3 linked regions of the Homo sapiens genome follow. The protein of the gene in region 1 purifies or fractionates together with the protein of each later gene. This does not show direct contact. Each region holds a gene or a part of one and is shown on either strand. Other genes may lie near its edges.

What was found.
Region 2: the proteins of C9orf40 (region 1) and GLB1 purify together in Homo sapiens (co-immunoprecipitation; 2 studies listed by BioGRID and IntAct, with this or other methods). This does not show direct contact.
Region 3: the proteins of C9orf40 (region 1) and PLOD1 purify together in Homo sapiens (affinity purification with mass spectrometry; 2 studies listed by BioGRID and IntAct, with this or other methods). This does not show direct contact.

The regions. Positions count from the first base shown.
Region 1 is NC_000009.12:74,949,894-74,957,228, forward strand, and holds the start of C9orf40 (uncharacterized protein C9orf40), read right to left. Parts: upstream 3,020-7,335; 5' UTR 2,719-3,019; coding exon 2,293-2,718; intron 1-2,292.
Region 2 is NC_000003.12:33,066,147-33,073,179, forward strand, and holds part of GLB1 (beta-galactosidase isoform a preproprotein), read right to left. Parts: intron 6,568-7,033; coding exon 6,398-6,567; intron 2,825-6,397; coding exon 2,674-2,824; intron 2,145-2,673; coding exon 2,084-2,144; intron 1-2,083.
Region 3 is NC_000001.11:11,937,684-11,944,716, reverse strand, and holds part of PLOD1 (procollagen-lysine,2-oxoglutarate 5-dioxygenase 1 isoform 2 precursor), read right to left. Parts: intron 196-7,033; coding exon of another isoform or gene 55-195; intron 1-54. UniProt on the Homo sapiens protein: Part of a complex composed of PLOD1, P3H3 and P3H4 that catalyzes hydroxylation of lysine residues in collagen alpha chains and is required for normal assembly and cross-linkling of collagen fibrils.

The DNA.
Region 1 (7,335 bases):
GCTCACGCCTGTAATCCCAGCTATTTGGTAGGCAGAGGCGGGAGGATCACTTGAGCCCAGCCTGGGTAACATGGCAAAACCCCATCTCCACAAAAAAAAAAAAATTAGTCCAGCGTGGTGGTGTGCACCTGCAGTCCCAACTATTCAGGAAGCTAAGGTTGCAGTGAGCTGGGATGGTGCCACTGCACTCCAGCCTGGGCATGGGAGCGAGACCCCAAGACCCTTTTTTAAAAAACAACAAAGAGAACAAGGGTAGTCTTGGTGAAGAAAGAACCCCTGGAGCCAACCTTTTTCCCTGTCATGCGCTTGCAGCGACTATAGGAAGTAGAGAGCTGCCAGATCTAGTTACTGCTGTGGGGGAAAAGAGTTGAGTCTAAGACTAAGCAAGCATCACCGTTTCAGGCTACTAGAGAACTCTTACGCTTTGCCTACTGCCATTTCCATATTTCCCTCTTATCACTGTGTGGCATAGTATAGACAGTGTATTCTGTATTCTGGTAGGAGACAAGCCTATGCATGAGTGGAGTACTAAAATGGTCTGAAGAGCTTTCAAAAAGTTTTCAAACTACACAGTCCCTAATCTCCATATCCATTATGGATGGATGGTTTAGAAGACTATCCATCTGTTTTCAGTTGATTTTGAATATCTGAGAGCAATCTGAAGAAAAAGTTTAAATAAGGCTCATGTTTCAACCATAGGAAAAAAAAAAAAAAAGTCTTTCCCAACTATAAAACTCTCGTTATTTTATTGGATTTTTCACATGAACAAGTCATGCCTAAGAAATTTCATTTATTTTTTTGGAAAGGTATTTGAAAACCCTGACATAAGATACTTGAGAAAATAGAAAAACGTTGGGAGGATGCTATCAGACAGCTGAAGAGAATTTGGTGAATTCTGAGAAACCTGTACTTGGTTCTTCATCTCCCAAGTCCCCTGCCATTCAGGATTGTGAAAAAGTAGTATGAATTCCTAAGTCTAGACCAAAGCTGTCCAATAAATATATAATGCTCCAAAAACATAATTTAAAATTTTCTAGTAGCTGTATTTAAAAAGTAAAAGAAACTTCTGGTATTAATTTTAATATATTTTCTTCAATATAGCCAAGTTATTTCATGTGTAATCAATATAAAATTGAGCTATTTTATCTTCATTTATTAAATCCACGAAATTTCGTGTATATTTTAAACTTAGAGCACATTTCCATTTGGACTAGTCACGTTTCAAGTGTTCTTACCGGCTAGCGGCCGGGCAGCAGAGATCTAGGCAAACCGAGGCATACCTAGATCTTCTCAGGATTCTTACATGCAGAGATGAGGCAGGCTCATGTCTTGAATAAAAACCCGCCAATGATTCTCATATACGCCTTAAGGCCCAAATTAATTTTCTTTTTTCTTTCTTTTCTTTTCTTTTTTTTTGAGACAGCGTCTCACTCTGTGGCCCAGGCTGGAGTGCACTGGCCCAATCTCAGCTCACTGCAACCGCCATCTCCCAGGTTAAAGTGATTCTTGTGCCTCAGCCTCCCGAGTAGCTGTGATTACGGGCATACACCACCACACCCAGCTAGTTTTTGTGTTTTAATAGAGACAGAGTTTCACCCTATTGGCCAGGCTGGTCTCGAACTCCCGACCTCAGGTGATCCACCCGCCGTGGCCTCCCAAAGTCCTGGGATTCCAGGCGTGAGACACCACGCCCCGCCCCCAAATTAATTTTCAATGATACTTTTGCCTAGGATCAGATTTAACACTATGAGTTAAAACAAAGCTTTGACCAAGGTACGGTGGTCCATCCTTTTCTCCAGAAGCTGTACCAGCCGGTAGGACGTTCAATTAATCAATGGCTACCACACTGGTCTCCCTCTAGAAAAAGAACTCTATCCCGAATTCTAGACTAATCATCGTTAAACCCAGGAAGGCCCTCTACACCTTTATCTGTCGTTTGTCTTTGGGCTGAACCTATGCCCTGACGGTCTGCGTTCTCGCCATGCTCACAGCCCGCCACGACCCACGGTCCCGTTTCCCTTTTACGGAGCGCGGCGCTGACGCCGCAAGGCCACTTCTATCGCTCCCGACCACGGTCTGTTTCCCCCTCGCCCAGCCCAGTGCTTTCTGCCCATCGGACTCTCGGGGTGTGCTTCTGGCGGTCGGCGTCCTCTCCCGGAGCGGTGACCCCTTCTTTCAACCCCCTCAGGCGTCTTAACCTACACAAGTCATGAGTGGGAACCGGGGCGTTTTGTGTGTGTGGGGAAAAGGCAAGCCCCTTCGCCCCTCAGCCCACCCGCCCCCAGCCCCTACCTGGCGCGATGCGACCCCCCAGTCTCCCCGCGGGGGTCCTGCGCGCCCCGCCCCGTCGTCGCCACCGCCCCCCGGGAGCCGGGCGCCCGGGAGCTCCTCCCCCGGCCCCGGCAGTACGGGCGGCGGCGGCAGCGGCGGATCGCCTGTCTCCAGACCGTGGTCCTCACGCTCCTGGCCGCTCGGGGCGCTGTTGTCCCCGCTGTCACGGCGCTTGCTGGGCGAAGCCGAGGGCTCTGCCATGGTCCCTGCGTCGATTTTGCGCTTTCGGTGCTGCTCTGGGACGCCGAGGAGCTGCCCAGCATGCGCGACCCCGGGCGGCCGGATCCAGAGAGGCGGTGGCGGCGGCTGCTCAGCGAAGTCGCAAAGCAGGAGCCGCTTCCAAGGCACGTGGAACGTCACCGGCTCGGCCGCACGCCGCTTGGCCATGGGCCCAGAGGCTCGGGCGGAGCCCGCCAGGCGCGGGAGACCGAGTGCCGATAGCTGCGGGGGGCGAAGAGCGAGGACTGAGCGCGTGAGAGAGGGACAGGCCGAAGTCGGGCGAGGAGGCGACAGGACGCTGGAGGGGGTAGGGCGGGGCAGCTCGCGCAGGGCCTAGGGCTGGGGCTCCGGCTCGGAGGCAGCTCCCGCGCTCAGCCCTCGCCGCCGCCGAGATGCGGCCCGGACGTTGAGAAGCAACCGCGAAGCGGCGGAGATTCGAACCTGCGCACAACGTGCGCGCGCGCACTCTGTCTGGCCAGGCGGAGCCGCTGGTTGGTGGAGGCTCGCGGGGCGCGCTCCCGAGCGCCCTCGCGACCGGAAGTGCGCGCTCGGGGGTAGGCGGGAAGGCCGCGGCGGGATTAATTAAAGACCCGATCAAGCGGCCCGCAGAGGGGCGTGACCTTGTTTCCTCAGGAGTGTGGCGGTGGTCTTACTACTATGTTCGTTATAGCGCGGTACGTTCTAGACCCTTCTATAGGAAATTTAAAACCTTTAAAATGTGTATTTCCTTCCTCCAGTCAGTGACCACGGGGGCGTCTCCATGAGATTAAGACAAAGATTATAATAGAGTTCCAGACTATCCTGGGCAACATAGCAAGACCTCGTCTCTACAAAAAATCAAAAATAGGCCAGGCTTGTTGGCCTGCCCCTGTGGTCCCAGCTACTCGGGAGGCTGAGGAGGAAGATTCACTTGAGCCTGGGAGGTGGAGGCTGTAGTGAGCCAGAGATCGCACCACTACACTGCAGCCTGGGCAACAGAGCGAGATGCCGTCTCAAAAAAAAAAAAAAAAAAAAGGAAAAGGATAATACAAGCTTTAAATAAAACTAGTGTTTAAGAAGCTTCACAGTAGGTTGTTATTCAAAACAAAAGACTGAAGGGAGTCTGGGCTGAGGGAAGTAGCTAAAGCTAACAGAAAACACAAATCGAAGTGTATGTTTTGCATGTTTTGCGCAGCTGCTGTGGAAGGTGAAGCAGGCCCTACATTCCTGGAAGATCTCTTGATTAAAAACTTATGGAGGAAGTTACAGACAAAATGTGCAGCTCATCCAAAATAGCTGAGTAGTTGGCAAGAACCAAGCCTGAAGCGCAGCTGTCCTTTCTAACTGAAACCTAAAATTGTTGGGCTCTTAATTAATGTTGGAAGGCTGAGTTCCCTGCTTACTATGGGCGGTGGTCAGATCAAGATTCTATGGCCATTACAGCAAAATAGTGTTGTCAGGTGAAGTGAGGTGGAGACAATTGCAGTATATTTACTATTTTATTATTTTTATTTTTTATTTTGTTTGAGACAGGGTCTCTCTCGGCCACCTAGGCGGGAGTGCAGTGGTGCCATCACGGCTCACTGCAGCCGGGCCCCACTGAGCTCAAGCGATCTCCTGTCTGGGCCTCCCAAAGTGCTTGGTTTATAGGTGTGAGCCACCGCATCTGGTCGTATTTACTATTTTAATAGTTTGATAAAGACAGTAACCAAGTAAGCAGAAATGGAAGGAAGAAAATAAGACTATTACCAGTGCTTTGAAGGGAAAAACTATCATCCTCTGTAGAAAAAGTGTGCAAGAAAGATAATTCTATTTTAGTGCTAGGTACTATCTCAGTACTAATTTACCCTGTACCCCTGCATCTCAAGGTGGTTGTGAGAGGACAAGTTAATTATTAGTTATTAACAAGCACAGAAATGTACCAAGTTAGGGTAGTAAGCAATAGCTTTTCTGTTTGGTTTTTACTTTTCTTGTTTGAAATTGGTAACCGGCCGGGTGCGGTGGCTCACGTCTTTAATCCCAGCACTTTTGGGAAGATGAGGTGCACAGATCACCTGAGCCCAGGAGTTCCATACCAGCCTGGCCAACATGGTGAAACCCCATCTCTACAGAAAATACAAAAATTAGCCAGAGGTGGTGCCTTGCACCTGTAGTCCCAGGGAGGCTGAGGTGGGAGGATCGCTTGAACCCTGGAGGCAGAGGCCAAGATTGCACCACTGTACTTCCAGCCTGGGTGACAGTGTGAGACCCTGTCTCCAAAAAAAAAAAAATAAATTGAAAACCCGTCTGTCTCAAACAGAGGAAGAGTTTTGCCATTTTTAAATCAGCAGGAAAGATCTTAATCGTAGTCATCAAGTGCTGTTTGAAAGGTTTTGAGTACCCCCAAAATAATAAGTTTAGCTAATGGTTGGTTCTTTTGTGTTCCTCTTTACAAACGCTCATTTTTTCAAAATTGTGAAACTTATCATATATGCAAAAGGTTGTATAAAATACACATGTAGTTAAAAGAATGATAGTAAGACATACAGCATTCTGTTTCAGAAATAGAATACTACCTATACTAGAACATGACAAGCTCCCTATGCGTCCCTTCCCCACTGGCACATACCCTTCCCTTTCCCTCACTCCCGGTAATTACCGTTTTACATGTTGAGTTAATCATTCCTTTGCTTTTTAACTCTTCCATTTGTATGTCTGTATGTATATTGCTAAATAACTTTTTTTTTTTTTTTTTTGAAACGGGGCTTGCTCTGTTGCCCTGGCTGGAGAGCAGTGATATGATTACAGCTCACTGCAGCCCTGACCTCTCAGGGGCAAGCAGTCCTCCCACCTCAGCCTCCTGAGTAGCTGAGACTACAGGTGTACATCACCACACCCAGCTAATTTTTAAAATTTTTTTGTAGAGCCAGGGTTTTGCCACGTTGCCCAGACTTGTCTCAAAGTCCTGAACTCAAACAATCTGCCTGCCCTGGCCTCCCAAAGTGTTGGGATTACAGGCATGAGCCACCACACCCAGCTTAATATATTTTCTGAGACCAGGTCTTGCTCTGTTGCCCAGGCTGGAATGTAGTGGCGTGATCACTGCTCACTGCAGCTTCAACTTCCTGGCCTCAAGCAATCCTCCTGCCTCAGCCTCCCAAGTAGCTGGGCCCATGGCTTGTGCCACCACACCCAGCTAATTTTTTATTTTTAGTAGCAACAAGGTCTCACTATGTTGCCCAGGCTTGTTTTGCCGGGCTTTTTTTTGTTTTTGTTTTTAAAACAGCTTTACCTAGGTCTAAATGACACACAATAATGTGCATATAAAGTGTACAATTTGACATTCATACACCTGTGAAACCATAACCACCATCAAGATGATCAAAGTTTTGAGAGCAGTCTTTGACATCTTGTTCTTTAGGAGTGTGTCAACTATACTTGGCCCTTTGTTCTTCCATAATAGCATCCTCTGTAACATTTAGTTACCCTTTTGGAATTTTGGTTATAATTGCATTGAGATTATAGATCAATTTGGGAAGAATTATTATCTTTACAATACCAAGCTCATTTCCTGTTCAAGAATATAACTATTTAAGTTTTTAAAAATCTTTCAATAAAGTTTTATATTTCTCAACATAAAGAGCTTATATCTTTGTTAAGTTTATCCCTAGGCACTTTATAATTTTTGTAGACAATATTCTTTTTCTTTTTAAATAACATTTTCTGAGTTTTTGTTGCTGCTCTGGGTTCTTTTTTTTTTAAGGCCCCAGAAGTAGAATTTGAAATTAGTTTACCCTAAGTTGTAAGTAGTACCAGATCCACTTGTTCAAGGAATTTGTCCATTTCATTCATCACATTTGTTGGAATATTTTCTTAGTTTCTCTTTTTCCCATTTCATTGGCTTCTACTAAATTTGGATTTACTTTGCTCTTCTTTCTCTAGCTTCTTCTAATAGAACCTAGGTCACTGATTGTAGTCTTTGTTAGTTTCTTTTTGGAGACAGAGTCACTCTGGCTGGAGTGAAGTGGCACGATCTTGGCTCACTGCAGCCTCTGCCTCCCAGGTTCAAGCGATTCTCCTGCCTCAGCCTCCCGAGTAGCTGGGACTACAGGTGCATGCCACCGCACCTGGCTAATTTTTGCATTTTTAGTAGAGGTGGGGTTTCACCATGCTAGCCAGCTTGGTCTCAAACTCCTGACTTCAGGTGATCCACCCACCTCGGCCTCCCAAAGTGCTGGGATTACAGGCGTGAGCCACCGTGCCCAGCCGTCTTTGTTAGTTTCTAAAATAAACACTTAAAGCTGTAACTTTCCCTGTAGCACTGCTTGGGCTACATCCTACAAATTTTGGTATGTTGTATTTTTATTATCTTTCAGTTTGAAATACTTTCAAAATTTCCTTTCTTGTTACTCTACCTCCTTCCTATCGTTATGAATTTCATTTTAAGTTAACCTATTGGTATTTACTTAGCTATACCTCTTTGAATTAATAATGTGGTTGCCATAAGGACTGTTCATATACATCTTTATTTTTTCACAGTCTAGTTCGAGCTAACATTGTACCACTTTATGTAAAACATAAATACCTTGCACCCCTCCCCCTGCCCTATCTAAATGCATTTTTTATTGATGTAATAGGATCTTCTACCTATTCTACATATCCCATAATTTTGTGGATAATAACTCAGAAGTCATTAGTTACAACAAAACAACAAAGAAGGGAAACTTTTTTTCTTCTTACTGAAAAAGGAATACACACAAACTTATTCTGCTTATCTTTAAACTTGTGTGTTTCAGACTAACTGAAGCCTCACAGCAGTGTAGGGTG
Region 2 (7,033 bases), on another chromosome or scaffold:
CGAGGACCAGTGTGCCTGTATCCATCTGCTATGGTTGGAATGTTTGTCCCTCTGAAACTCATGTTGAAATCGAATCCCCAATGTGGTAGTATTGAGAGGTGGGGCCTTTAAGAGGTGTTGAGTCATGAGGGCTCAGCCCTCATAAGTAGATCAATCCACTCATGGATTAATAGATTAATAGGTTAATGGATTCATGGGTCATCATGGGAATGGGACTGGTGGCTTTATAAGAAGAGGGAGAGAGATCTGAGCTAGGACACTCAGCCCCCTCACCATGTGATGCCCTGTGCCCCCTCAGGACTCTGCAGAGTCCCCACCAGCAAGAAGGCCCTCACCAGATATAGCCCCTCCACCTTGAACTTCTTGGCCTCCATAACTGTAGGAAATAAATGCTTTTCTTTATAAATTACTCAGTTTCAGGTATTCTGTTACAAGCAACAGAAAACAGACTAAGACCATCCTTGCCACAGGACACAAAGCCTGGAGCATAGAACATATCCAAGCAATGTTTGCTGAATGAAGAAAAGAGTGACTGAACAGTGTATCCTCTTCTCAGTCACAGGAAGGCTTTTTTTCCGTATAAAATGAAGTTCTAATAAATTCTATATTTATATTGTCAAATAGGAATAATAAATGTACATGCCACATAAAGTTGGCATAAAGATTAAATGAGTTACCACAGTGAAAACACCAATAATATGCTAAGCGTGCAAAACATGAAGGTACTGGAGTAAGACAAAGAAAAAAACTATCATTTACACATTGCTCTATAAAAGTGGCCAGAATATAGAAGGCATTGCAGCTACCAAGCAATCCAATGACACCATCCCAGAAACTGTCATTTTGTTTTTATTTCTTTTTTTTTTTTTTTTTGAGACAGAGTTTCGCTCTTGTTGCCCAGGCAGGAATGCAATGGCGCAATCTGGGCTCACTGCAACCTCTGCCTCCCAGCTTCAAGCAATTCTCCTGCCTCAGCCTCCCGAGTAGCTGGGATTACAGGCATGCACCACCACACCCAGCTAATTTTGTATTTTTTAGTAGAGACAGGGTTTCCTCATGTTGGTCAGGCTGGTCTCGAACTCCTGACCTCAGGTGATCCACCCACCTCGGCCTCCCAAAGTGCTGGGATTACAGGCATGAGCCACTACGCCCGACCTTATTTCTTTTTTTGAGACAAAGTCCCTCTCTGTTGCCCAGGATGGAGTGCAGTGGTACAATCATGGCTCACTGCAGTCTCAACCTCCCAGGCTCAAGCAATCCTCCCACCTCAGCCTCCCGGACTACAGGCATGTGCCAGCACACCTGGCTAATTTTTATAGAGATAGGGTCTCGCTATGTTACCTAGGCTGGTATCAAACTCCTGGGCTCAAGCAATCCCTCCACTTTGGCCTCCCAAAGTGCTGAGATTACAAGTGTGAGTCACCATGCCTGACTTGTCATTTTGATTAGCGAGGTGCTATCATTGGCTGTGGAATATGCTAAGTAAATAGGAAGAGAAAGCACTGAAGTCAGTTGGTCAACCGCAAACAGGGTTCAATACCAATTCAAAGAATTACCAGTTTATCAGTAAGATCTGGTTACGTAGTTCAAAGCCTAATTTCCTAGAGGTTTAGTTTGTTGCTATGCACTGGTCAGTGATAAACACTCAGACTTTCACTAAACTTTCAAAAGTATTTGTGCAGAGGTACCCCAGCCTTCAAAATACCTCCCCCTTTTGATATAAATTGTTGAAGCTTTTTTGTTTGTTTGTTTGTTTTGAGACAGAGTCACGCTTTGTCACCCAGGCTATAGTGCATTGATACGATCTCGGTTCACTGCAACTTCCGCCTCCAGGGTTCAAGCAATCCTTCTGCCTCAGCCTCCTGAGTAGCTGGGATTACAGGCGCCCACCACCATGCCCAGCTAATTTTTTGTATTTTTAGTAGGGGCGAGGTTTTGCCATTTTGGCCAGCCTGGTCTCGAACTCCCAACCTCAGGTAATCCACCCGCCTCAGCCTCCCAAAGTGTCAGGATTACAGGCGTGAGCCACCGCACCTAGGCTGAAGCTTTTATAAATCTTCTCAAGACATCTGTAACAACCTACCTGGGTCGGAGGAGCGGAGAAGAATAGACTCTTTCTCTAGCAGCCAAGCAGGTAATCCTCCCTAGTTCAGGGAAAACAAGCCATTATAATGTCTGTTCCGTGAAGGGTGCTCAGAGGAGATAGAAATTACTATTAGTAGTTATGGAAAAGAATAAAAGCTTCAAGGGACAAGGGGTATTTGAGCTGGGCTTTTTGGTTTATAACTTGCAGAGAAATTAGAAATTGGAATGTAGGACAATTAAGATCACTCTGCATGAATGCAATGTTTTAAGGACCAAAGCCCTTTTCATAAAGATTTTTCAATTTAATTTCACAAATACCCTGTGACGTAGATAGAGAAGACACCATTAACTGCTTCTTACAGATGAGCAAGCTGAGGTATGTGAGTGACCACCAAGAGGAGAGCCCATGCCCTGACCCTGGCCTGTTTCTCTGCCTGGGCACCTTGTCAAGGTAAAAGACACCTGTGCTGGGTACAGTCCCAGGCCCCATGCTCTCTGGAATGCAGGTCTGCTTTAATTCCCTTTGCCCCAGAGCTGCTGCCTGCCAGCTCACACACACCAGGTAGAGCCCAGTCTAGCCACACTCACCATTTCCCACTCTGCACAGATGTAGGGCCCGGGCCTCAGGATAACCAGCAGTCCCAGCTCATGAGCCAGCCGAAGAAAATATTCCACATCATGGTCCTCAGAAAACTGGTACTGTCCTGGCCAGGGCTCATGAAAGTTCCAGGGCACATACCTGCCAAGACACACACAGCCCCTTCCTGGATACTTGGCAGAGTCAAGAAGAAAGAAGCGTGGGGAAAGGGCCTCATTAGGACTATTGCTAACACATGGATAAGAGGGAGAAGGCGCTTTGAAAGAAAAATTATCCAAGGCTGGGCACAGTGGCTCAGGCCTCTAATCCCAGCACTCTGGGAAGTCACGGTGGGTGGATGGCTTGAGCCCAGGAGTTTGACACCAGCCTGGAAAACATGGTGAAACCCCGTCTCTACAAAAAACACAAAAAAATTAGCCAGGGTGTATGCCTGTGGTCCCAGTTACCCTGGAGGCTTGAGGTGGAGGTTTGCTTAAGCTAGGGAGGTTGAAGCTGCAGTGAGCTGTGATTGTGCCACTGCACTCCAAACTGGATGACAGAGTGAGACCCTGTGTCAAAATAAAGAAAGAAAAGAAAAGAAAAATTATCCAGAATTTGGATATAAGGCAAAAGGGTGACTGCATTTCCTTTCCATGTTATAATGGAGGACTGTCCAATGGGCCCACTGAGGCTTCCTTCATTCTCCAGGGGAGATATTTTGTTTGACTTACTATTTACTATTGATTAAGGGAAGAACTTTGAAGTTACAGATTAATTTGTAGATTATTGCCTGAGAGAGAAACAAATGATTGTCATACAGAGAAGACAACTCTAAAGGTTGCTTTTTCATTCATTGCCCTTTATGATACTAACCAGTTTTATCTCTAAAGATAACTTTATTTGAACATGACTTTCTTGACTGACCGTAAACCTCCCTTCCTCAAATTCTCCTTTGAATTAGCTTTACCATCTAGCTAGTTTCCTCAGTAATAAGTTAAATAAATTTTTAAAAACTTTTATTTTAGGTTCAGGGGTACATGTGCAGGTTTGTTATACAGGTAAATTGCGTGTCATGGGGGTTTGGTGTACAGATTATTTAGTCACCCAGATAATCTGCCTAGTACACGATAGGGGAACTCACCCTCCTCCCACCCTCCACCCTCAAGTAGGCCCCATTGTCTGTTGTTCCCTTCTTTGTGTCCATATGTACTCGATGTTTAGCTACCACTTATAAGTGAGAACATGTGGTATTTGGTTTTCTGTCCCTGTGTTTGCTCAGGATAATAGCCTCCAGCTGCATCCAGTTTGCTGTAAAGGACATGATCTCATTCTTTTTTGTGATTTTTGTAGTATTCCATGGTGTATATGTACCACATTTTCTTTATCCAGTTAAATAAATTTCTGACATATGTCCATTATATACTTGTTTGTAAGTCAGGTTTTTAGCTTTTTGTAATTATATTTTGCATAAATAATTGAATTGAGGTGCTCTGTGGAAGGGGAAAGAGCTCAAAAATCCAGTATCCTACATAAATTTCTAAACTGTCTATAGAGAAAGATATGGTGTAGAACCATAAACCACAGGACACATAGACCTTCCCGCTTGGCAGCCTCTTGGGAGGGGCCTTGTTATGAATTTTTACAGCAGCTCCCCAAGCTAGTCAGACTTCATGGGGACACTTCTTAAAATCAACAACAACAACAGAAAACTCCAGAGTTATATCAGCACTAATTCCTATTACATAAAAATTATAGCTGGGCACAGTAGCTCTCTTCTGTAATCCCTGCACTCTGGGAGGCCAAAGCAGTAGGATCGCTTGAGTCCAGGAGTTGAAGACCACCATGGGAAACATAGTGAGACCTCATCTCTAAAAACAAAGCAAAACAAAAAAATTAGCTGGTGTGGTAGCAGTGCCTGTAATCCCAACTACTCAGGAGGCTGAGGTGGGAGGATCACCTGAGCCCACTTTAAGGTTTCAGTGAACTATGATTGAGCCACTACATTCCAGCCAGGTGACAGAGCAAGACCCCAGCTCTAAAAAATTGTTTTAATAAATAAAAATAAAAATTATATATGTCCATGTGAGGCTTAGGAAAAATAAGAATATTTTGCTGAAAAGTAGTAAGAGACATATTTATTTTTTGAAGAAATAATTTTTAGTACGTGTAGGAAAAACTCCAAGCCCTAGATCCTCTGACAAAAGATTTTGTCAGGAATCATGTGGCAGGAGGTAAAATGACAAAACCTTCTACCAGCTCCTCTGTCTACCTACAGACAGCATGGGATACAAAGTTAAATATGGAGCCATCCATTACCATCACAAAGCTCTCTTTGAAGACCCTGGGTTGTGTCATTTTGCGTGTGTGTGATCCCATGATTTCAGGGTTCCCTGGAACAGTCTTGGTCTTCCAGAACTCACTGTCGGAATTATAAACAGGTGAACTTGGGTTCACTCTGCCAGTGGCCTTAGAACCAGAATAATGAGCGCATTCTCCCTAAGTATCTATCTTCGGAATCTGCCTCTGGGTTTTCTCACTCTTCATCTTTGAGAAGTTATCAGCAATCCACATCAGCACTGCAAGAGCCAGAGCAGCCAGCCACACCAACTTTCTTGCCTGTTAGTTAGTTACTTTGCAATAGCAAAAGAGATGCAGAGAGATAGCTATTGGGATAATTCTACACCCTGAAGTTATACAATTACCGCAGCAGAACCACAAAGCCAAACTGGGTTTCAGAAATCTACCTAAGCACAAGGCTTATTCTGTTATTGGGGCTCAGAAAACAATACCCCAAAGTATGGCACCTTGGCATGCTAAGTACTTTGAACTAAAGGAGATCGGAAGGCCTTAGAAGCAAATCTTCTTTCTCTGGCCTTCTCCTGCTCTTCTGTTGCCCACCCCTCCTTCTCCCCTGAAGCAAGTCAAACCAGAATTCATCTTCCCCCAGTGTGGGTCATAGAAATTAGAACCCCTCTCTCCCAAAGCAAGCCAGAAAACCTAGAAAGGTCACCTCTCCCTTCTCCCTTCTAGACCCTCATTGCAGAGGGGTCCTGCTCCATACCCAGAAGGAAGGAATGCCACCCAGAAAGGCCAAGAAGAATCTGTTGAGGCAGGCCTTGAGGGTTTCCCACTTCAGTCCACCACCATTAGGTCAGAACCTTTCATGGAATCTAAGTGTAAAAAGTTTTCCTTGGGTCTTCTTTTCTGAAGACTCTCATGTCAGATAAAACTTACATATCTGTTATGCTTTTCTCCTGTTAACCTAGCTTTTTGTATGACTACAGCCATACCTGTGCTACAGCTGCCTGCATGCCTTCCCTTCCCTTCAAATACTAGCTGAACCTCTGACCAAAGATATGGCCTTGGGCAAATTTCAGTTTCACCAGCTATAAACAGGAACAATAATACCTATCTCGAGGAAATGGAATCATTAGTATAAAGTGCCCTGTATCTGGTAAGTGCTCAATCATTGTTACTTCTGTTTGCTTCCCCCATCCTTTTCCTTTTTAAGCTATTTATTTAATGATTTCTGATGATTAAAATTGAAGATTGGAAGAAGTAGTTAATTATTTGAAAAAGGGCCAGTCCGGCTCATGACAAGCCCCTCCCAGAACATCACACTGGACCATTTCCCATTTCTGAGCAATAAAATAGCCACCCTGAGAAATACAGTTGTATCTTCTCTCCAGAGTGGGTGTTCAGGCCTAGGTGAGAGCCACATGCCCTCCTACTTACGTCTGGATGGCGTTCAGCCCAGCCATCTTCATCTTCAGCAGCCGGTCCTTCCAGTAGAAGCGGGGCACACGGGAGTAGTGAATGCTTCCTGAGATGTAGCGAAATGGCTGGCCATCCTTGAGGAAGGAGTCCCGGCTATAGTCAATTTCAAACATCCTCTGGGTGGCATTCTACAGAGCAAGGATGGGGTCACATGAGAACTTCCACCTTCTGCATTTCAGAAGCCGATCCTTTGAGAGTAGCAAGTGACTCTCTGCCTATTGAATTTGTATAATGTGCTGATGGACTTAATGCTTGTTTTCTGAGCTATCATACAAACCATTGCTAAGCCAGGTCCACCAGGGGTACTCAGGTAAGAGAAATCATCTAAGAGGATCCACATGCAGGATTCCATAAGGCTTAGCTTCTAGAGGCCAGCACTGAGCTGACAATCAGTGGCTGAGATGATATTCCACTGTGCTGTTCATGGGGCTGGGGAACATCACACACACACACGCATGCACGCACACACGCCATTGTTGCTGTGACCTGCCTGAGCACTGGATGCACCTCAACAACAATGTCACTGGGATAACCAAGACCCATTAACAAAATTCTAAGTGTAAAATACAGGGCAAAAAGCAATGGATTAAAACT
Region 3 (7,033 bases), on another chromosome or scaffold:
GGGGAGGAGGGGGTGGATACACCAGGCAGGTGTGGGAAGGAGAGGCCTCACTACCTGAACCTGGGATCCAGAAACGAGGGATGCTGCTCACACTTGGGGAAGGGCTCCCCCGAGCTCCTGCCAGGACGGTGAAGTCTCTCCCCAGGTGAAGAGAACCAGAGCCACCAGCTCTGAGGCCCTCTTGGCAACAGGGGGCTGCTGGGGACAGGAAGAGTGTCACATTTCATGGATGGAAAAAGCCAGCGTGAGAGCATGTGAGTGAGTGTGTGTGTGTGTGTGTGTGTGTGTGTGTGTACGCGTGCATGCGCAATTCAGGATTCTTGATGGAACAGGCTCTTGAACTCCAGCAGCAGGGGTGGGGGAAGGGGATGGGGTGGCGTGGCTCAAAGCCCCTTTCTCAGGTTCCTGCTTCTCAATAACAGCAACAATAATGGCTTACCTTCATCGAGCATTTTCTGTGTGCCAGACACAATTTTTTTTTTTTGAGACAGAGTCTCGCTCTGTCACCCAGGCTGGAGTGCAGTGGCTAGATCTTGTCTCACTACAACCTCTATCTCCTGGGTTCAAGCGATTCTCATGCCTCAGCCTCCTAAATAGTTGGGATTACAGGTGCCGGCCACCACGCCCAGCTAATTTTTTGTATTTTTAGTAGAGATGGGGTTTCACCATGTTGGCCAGGCTGGTCGCAAACTCATGACCTCAGGTGATCTGCCTGCCTCAGCTTCCCAAAGTGCTGGATTACAGGCATGAGCCACCGTGCCCAGCCAATGCTGTTCCAAGCACTTCACACATACTAACCCCCGACTTTCCAGTTAGGAAACCAAGGGTACAGCTGGCGAGTAATGTGCCCAAGGGAGCTAGGAAGCAGCAGCACCAGGACTTGGACACAAGCCTGAACCCAGAGTCTCCTCTCTTAACCTAAATGCATGCACTGCCCAGCCAGGGACGGTGGCCAGGCCATCTGTTGAGAGGGCCCTGTCTCTCTATCTATGTAAGGGAGCTGTCTAGCTGTGCCCTCCCCACATGCCCACTTTCCTCCCTATAACCTGTCTATTCCCTGTTTTCCAGGGAAACAGTGCTGCTGAGAGCCCACACTGGGACCTTAACCCCCAGGTTCCGTGGCCAGGCGTGGTGACTCACGCCTGTAATCGCAGCACTTTGAGAGGCTGAGGCAGGTGGATCACCTGAGGTCAGGAGTTTGAGAGCAGCCTGGTCAACATGGTGAAACCCTGTCTCTACTAAGAATACAAAAATTAGCCGGGCGTGGTGGCACATGCCTGTAATCCCAACTACTCGTGAGGCTCAGGCAAGAGAATCGCTTGAACCCGGGAGGTGGCGGCTGCAGTGAGCAGAGACTGTGCCATTGCAGTCCGGCCTGGGCGACAAGAACAAAACTCTGTCTCAAAAAAAAAAAAAGAAAGAAAAAAAAAGCCGGGCACGGTGGCTCATGCCTATAATCCTAGCACTTTGGGAGGCCAAGGCAGGTGGATCATGAGATCAGGAGTTCAAGACCAGCCTGGCCAACATGGTGAAACCCCATCTTTACTAAAAATACAAAAATTAGCTAGGCATGGTGGTGGGCGGGAGCCTGTAATCCCAGCTACTCGGGAGGTGGAGGCAGAGAACTGCTTGAACCCAGGGGGCAGAGATTGCAGTGAGCCGAGATAATGCCACTGCACTCTAGCCTGGGTGACAGAGCAAGTCTCCATCTCAAAAACAAAAACAAAAAACAAAAAACCAAACAAACAAAAAAAACTCCCGGGTTCCTTGGGCCACGCAGAGCCTGCCTCTCTGGTTGAGGATCCCACGTGATTGTCCAGTTCAGAGGGTCCCAAACCTGCCCACACATCAGCATCACAAGAGAGGTTGTGGAATCCAGGCTCCTAGGCCCCAGGGCTAGGGGTCTGAGGTGGGCCCAGGAGTCTGGATTTTTCCTACCTTTCCCAGGTGATTTCTGATGTCAGCCACATTTGGGAATCACTGGTCCAATCCATCCCCTTGGTCCGCTGACACTGGGCTGCAATGCAGGGGTCTGGGAGGCGGTTCACAACAAGAGAACTGAAGGCAAGCCCTCCAACAAGAGACCCTGGCATGACCTCCTAACATCCCCAAGGAAACAGCCTCAGTAAACCCAGCCTGCACCCCATTCCCTTGACCTGTCTGCAACACACATTCCTTCCCCTAAAGAGGCCTCCAGTCTACCTCCTCCAGGAAGCCCTCCTTAATCTCATCCCATGTGGTCACTCCTTTGCACGTGCAGTCTTGGTTTGCCCAGTAGTTGACGTATTGGTACAAACCTGCTCCTTCTCCCTCTGCCAGGCCAGGGCCACATCTTTATTTCCTTGGTCTCCCTCTCCCTCACCATGGCTGGGACTGGGCATGACCAAGACACACTGTACATTCTGGCCTTAAGCAGCTACGTGAGGCCTGACACAGTGGCTCACACCTGTAATCCCAGCACTTTGGGAAGTGAGGGGAAGCTGAGGCAGGCAGATCAGTTGAGATCAGAAATTTGAGACCAGCCTGGCCAACATGGTGAAACCCCGTCTCTACTAAAAATACAAAAATTAGCTAGACGTGGTGGCAAGAGCCTGTAGTCCCAGCTACTCAGAAGGCTGAGGCACGAGAATTGCTTGAACCCAGGAGGCAGAGGTTGCAGTGAGCCAGGGTTGTGCCACTGTACTCCAGCCTGGGCAACAGGGTGAAACTCTGTCTCAAAAAAAAAAAAAAAGGCCGGGCACAGTGGCTCACACACCTGTAATCCCAGCACTTTGGGAGGCCAAGGTGGACAGATCACCTGAGGTCAGGAATTCAAGTCCCACCTGGCCAACATGGCAAAACCCCGTCTCTACTAAAAATACAAAAATTAGCCAGGCAGTGGTGCATATTACATACTGCAAGTTATACGGTGGTGCATGTAATCCCAGCTACTAGTCCGGGCGCGGTGGCTCACGCCTGTTATCCTAGCACTTTGAGAGGCCTAGGCGGGCGGATCACCTGAGGTCAGGAGTTTGAGACCAGCCTAACCAATGTGATGAAACCCCGTCTCTACTAAAAATACAAAAAAAATTTAGCTGGGCATGGTGGCAGGCGCCTATAATCCCTGCTATTCAGGAGGCTGAGATAGGAGAATTGCTTGACCCAGGAGGCAGAGGTTGCAATGAGCCCAGATTGTGCCATTGCACTCTAGCCTGGGCAACAAAAGTGAAACTCCATCTCAAAAATAATAATAATAATAATAATAATAATCCCAGCTACTTAGGAGACTAAGGCAGGAGAATCACTTGAAACCAGGAGGCAGAGGTTGCAGTGAGCCAAGATTGTGCCACTGCACCCCAGCCCGGGTGACAGAGTGAAACTCTGTCTCAAAAAAAAAAGCAGCAACATGGAAGGTACTTTTGTACTTTTGTGGTGCCACTGCACTCTAGCCTGGGTGACAGAGCAAGTCTCCCTCTCAAAAACAAAAAACAAAAAACAAAACAAACAAACAAAGTACTTTTAGGAACAGCTACCACCACTGAACCCGGTGAGATACCGTGTGCTGTATGAGGCATGTTACATTCATTATCTTATTTCACGGTCAACACTCTACGAGGAAGGTGATATTTTTATCACTGCTTCTTCGGGTGAGGAAACCGAGGCACAGAGAGGCTAAATACCTGACCCAAAGTCACAGAACCTTTAGGTGAAATGGGAATGAGTTGGAATTCTAAATGCCCATGCTCTTGTCTTCATTTCCCTGTCCAAGAGCCCAACATCCTAAGATGCCAGACTCCTGGCTGCAGACAAAAGCCAGCGCTTCCAGTGCCTTCTCTCTGGCCTCTGCAGCACAAGCACCCAACTGCAGTCACGTGGTGAGGTCTTTTCCCAGCTCACTGTTAGGCCAGGCCAGAGAAACCCTTAAGGCATGGATGTGGAAGATTCATTTTCGAGTACCAAGGCCCCTCCCATCTGCTTTCTGTCTGGTCCAGCCAGCTGCCTTGGGCTAAGGCCAAGGCCTGGCACCCAGAGCTCTCAGCCCTCCCCACCTACTGCCCAAAGTCCAGCAATGACTTCCCCAGATGAACCCGTGATCCAGGATCAGCAGAAATCAATGAGATACAACAGAGAGGGTGCTAAAGACAGATTGCTGGGCAGGGAATTTAGCCTCTCCGTGCCTCAGTTTTCTCATCTGTAAAATGGGAATAATACAGATGATAGTACCTCCCTCCAGAGACTTTCATGAGGATTCAATGAGCCAATGCCGTAAAGCGCTTGGCACAGTGCCTGCCTTGGTAGCTGCGGGGGGGTTCTGGCGACAGGGTGCCTCCCCTAAAGGGGAGCTGTGTCTTGGTAGATGCTGCCCTGGGGGTCAGGAATAAAGGGGAGCTGCCTTCCTGAGAGCAAGAATGATGCAGAGGGTGGGGTGGCTCACACCTGTAATGTCAACACTTAGGGAGACCAAGGCAGGAGGCTTATTTGAGGCCCTGAGTTCAAGACCAACCTGTGCAACAAAGTGAGACCCTGTCTCTACAAAAAATTAAAAAATTAGCCAGACATGGTGGCACGCACCTCTAGGCCCAGCTACTCAGGAAGCTGAGGCAGGAGGATTGCTTGAGCCCAGGAGGTGAAGGCTGCAGTGAGCTATAGTCATGCTACTGGGCCACAGGAATTAGCCAGGTGCAGTGGCTCACACCTGTAATCCCGGTCTTTGGGGGGCCAAGGTGGGGATGATCACTTGAGCCTGAGGGTTCAAGACCAGCCGGGGCAACACAGTGAGACCCTGTCTGTACAAAAAAATAAAATTTAGAAAAACTTTTAAGAGAAGAATGATGTGTGCGGTGGCTCACACCTGTAATCCTAGCACTTTGGGAGGCCAAGGCGGGTGGATCACATGAGGTCAGGAGCTCGAGACCAGCCTGGCCAACATGGCGAAACCCCATCTCTACTAAAAATACAAAAATTAGCTGGGCATGATGGTGGGCGCCTGTAATCCCAGCTACTCGGGAGACTGAGGCAGGAGAACTGCTTGAACCCAGGGGGCAGAGGTTGCAGTGAGCTGAGATCATGCCATTTCACTCCAGACTAGGTGAGCGAGACTCCATCTCAAAAAAAGAAAAAGAAAAAGAATGATGTGGAGAGACTGACGGTGAGGGCTTGGTTGGGGTGTGCGTATGTGATGAGCTCCTGGAAGAATGGGACCTCTGGGCACCCCTGGTTTGACTGTGCCACCGGATGCCCCCTCCTCCCCAAGCAGTCCCAGCCCAAGGCGTGGGTGGTCACTGTGTGGCCTGAGTCAAGGCACAGTCATGACACACCCAGTCTGCTCCCTGGGGAGGCGGGAATGAATGAAGCCCTTCCGCCCTCTCCCCTCCCCCATCCTTCATCCCCACCCCAGGCTTGAACTGAAGCCAGGAACAGGGTCTGGCAGGAGCTTGGGATGCCCTGCACGTGGGAGCCAACCTTAGCCTCCCCGGGGCCAGCTGCCCACTTAGGTCTCCCCAGACCCGGCCCCACCCCCACACCATCCAGTGCAGCCTGACTGACTCCTGGGACCCTTCTGTTCTCTAGTAGGGAACAGCATGACCTGAACGGCCAGCTGAGCCTCTGATCTCTGCAGCTGTCCTTCTCTCACCACGGCCAAATCAAGGCCCACAGGGAAAGGCAGGAGCTGGAGATCTGCTAGAAGTTTCTACAAACGGGAGGAAGGGCTGTGGGACATCTGACCTCGGCTCTAGGGATATCTGCCTGTTTGGATGTTGCCTTTTATTCTCCCAGTTCCCTGTGATGGAAGATATTGCTTTGTTGAAGCCTTCTTGTGTCTCCCATCTTGTTCTGGAAGCCCCCCCAGGATGGCGCAACATCTCTTCCCTCAGACGTGGGGTGTCTACTGAAGTGAGGTGCTCTGTACCCCCCTCTCATTGGGAGCCCCCAAAAGTGAAAACGGTCCATGTTTCTCTCCATGCACCAAGGCCATGCGTTTTGGGTGAGGGGACAGACAAGCTGCTGACAGCACCCCACCCATCTCACTCCCCGAGACTCCACAGCAAATCCCCTTCCCTACTCCAGCTGAATCCACCTCAGTAGCTGCCTCCTCCCATCCATCTGCCAGGGAAAGGGAAGAGCTGGCCTCTTTGGGGGCTGCTGGGGTACCCCCCACCAAACACACACACTAGTCAGTGGGATGCTCAGGCAAGACCTGCAGGGAAGATGAGCAACCCACTCTGTCCTCCTGTCCAGCTGGCTAAAGGTCACACCTCAGCTGGGTCTGGGGGAGCTGAGCAGGCTCCCCCAGGCAGCATTTCCAGGCAACAGCACCCCCTTCCCGTCCAGAGGTGCAGAAATGAACAGTAGGTCTGAGTTCCAGACAATGACCCCACCTCCAACCAGCTCTGGCAATGAGAGACCAGATGTTTAACCTACCAGGACCTCAGTCTTCCCATCTCCAAAATGGAGTTGATGATTTCTTACTTAGCAAAGGGATCCTGGCCGGGCGTGGTGGCTCAGGCCTGTAATCCCAGCACTTTGGGAAGCCAAGGTGGGCAAATCGCTTGAGGTCAGGATTGAGACCAGCCTGGCTAACATTGCAAAACCCCGTCTCTACTAAAAATACAAAAATTAGCCAGGCATGGTGGTGCATGCCTGTGATCCCAGCTACTTGGGAGGCTGAGACAGGAGAATCGCTTGAACCCTGGAGGTGGAGGCTGCAGTGCGCTGAGATCGTGCCACTGCACTCCAGCCTGGGCGACAAAGCGAGACTCTGTCTCAAAGAAAAAAAAAAAAAGAAAATGAAAACTTAAAAAAAAAAAAAAAAATGGAAAACAGGGAGGGATCCAAATGGAGAAGGGAAGCAAAGGGCCCAACTCAGACTGGCCTGACATTAGCCCCAGGCCTGGGGATCTGCTCTCTTGTGCATCAGTGAGCACAGATGTGCTTTCTACCTACCAGGTGCTCTACCTGGGTTACCTCAGTAGCACACTGATCCTGTCCTCCGCCCATAGCAGCACCCTCTGTGAAGGCTTCCTTGGATCTGCTCTGCCCTCCTCCTGTCACT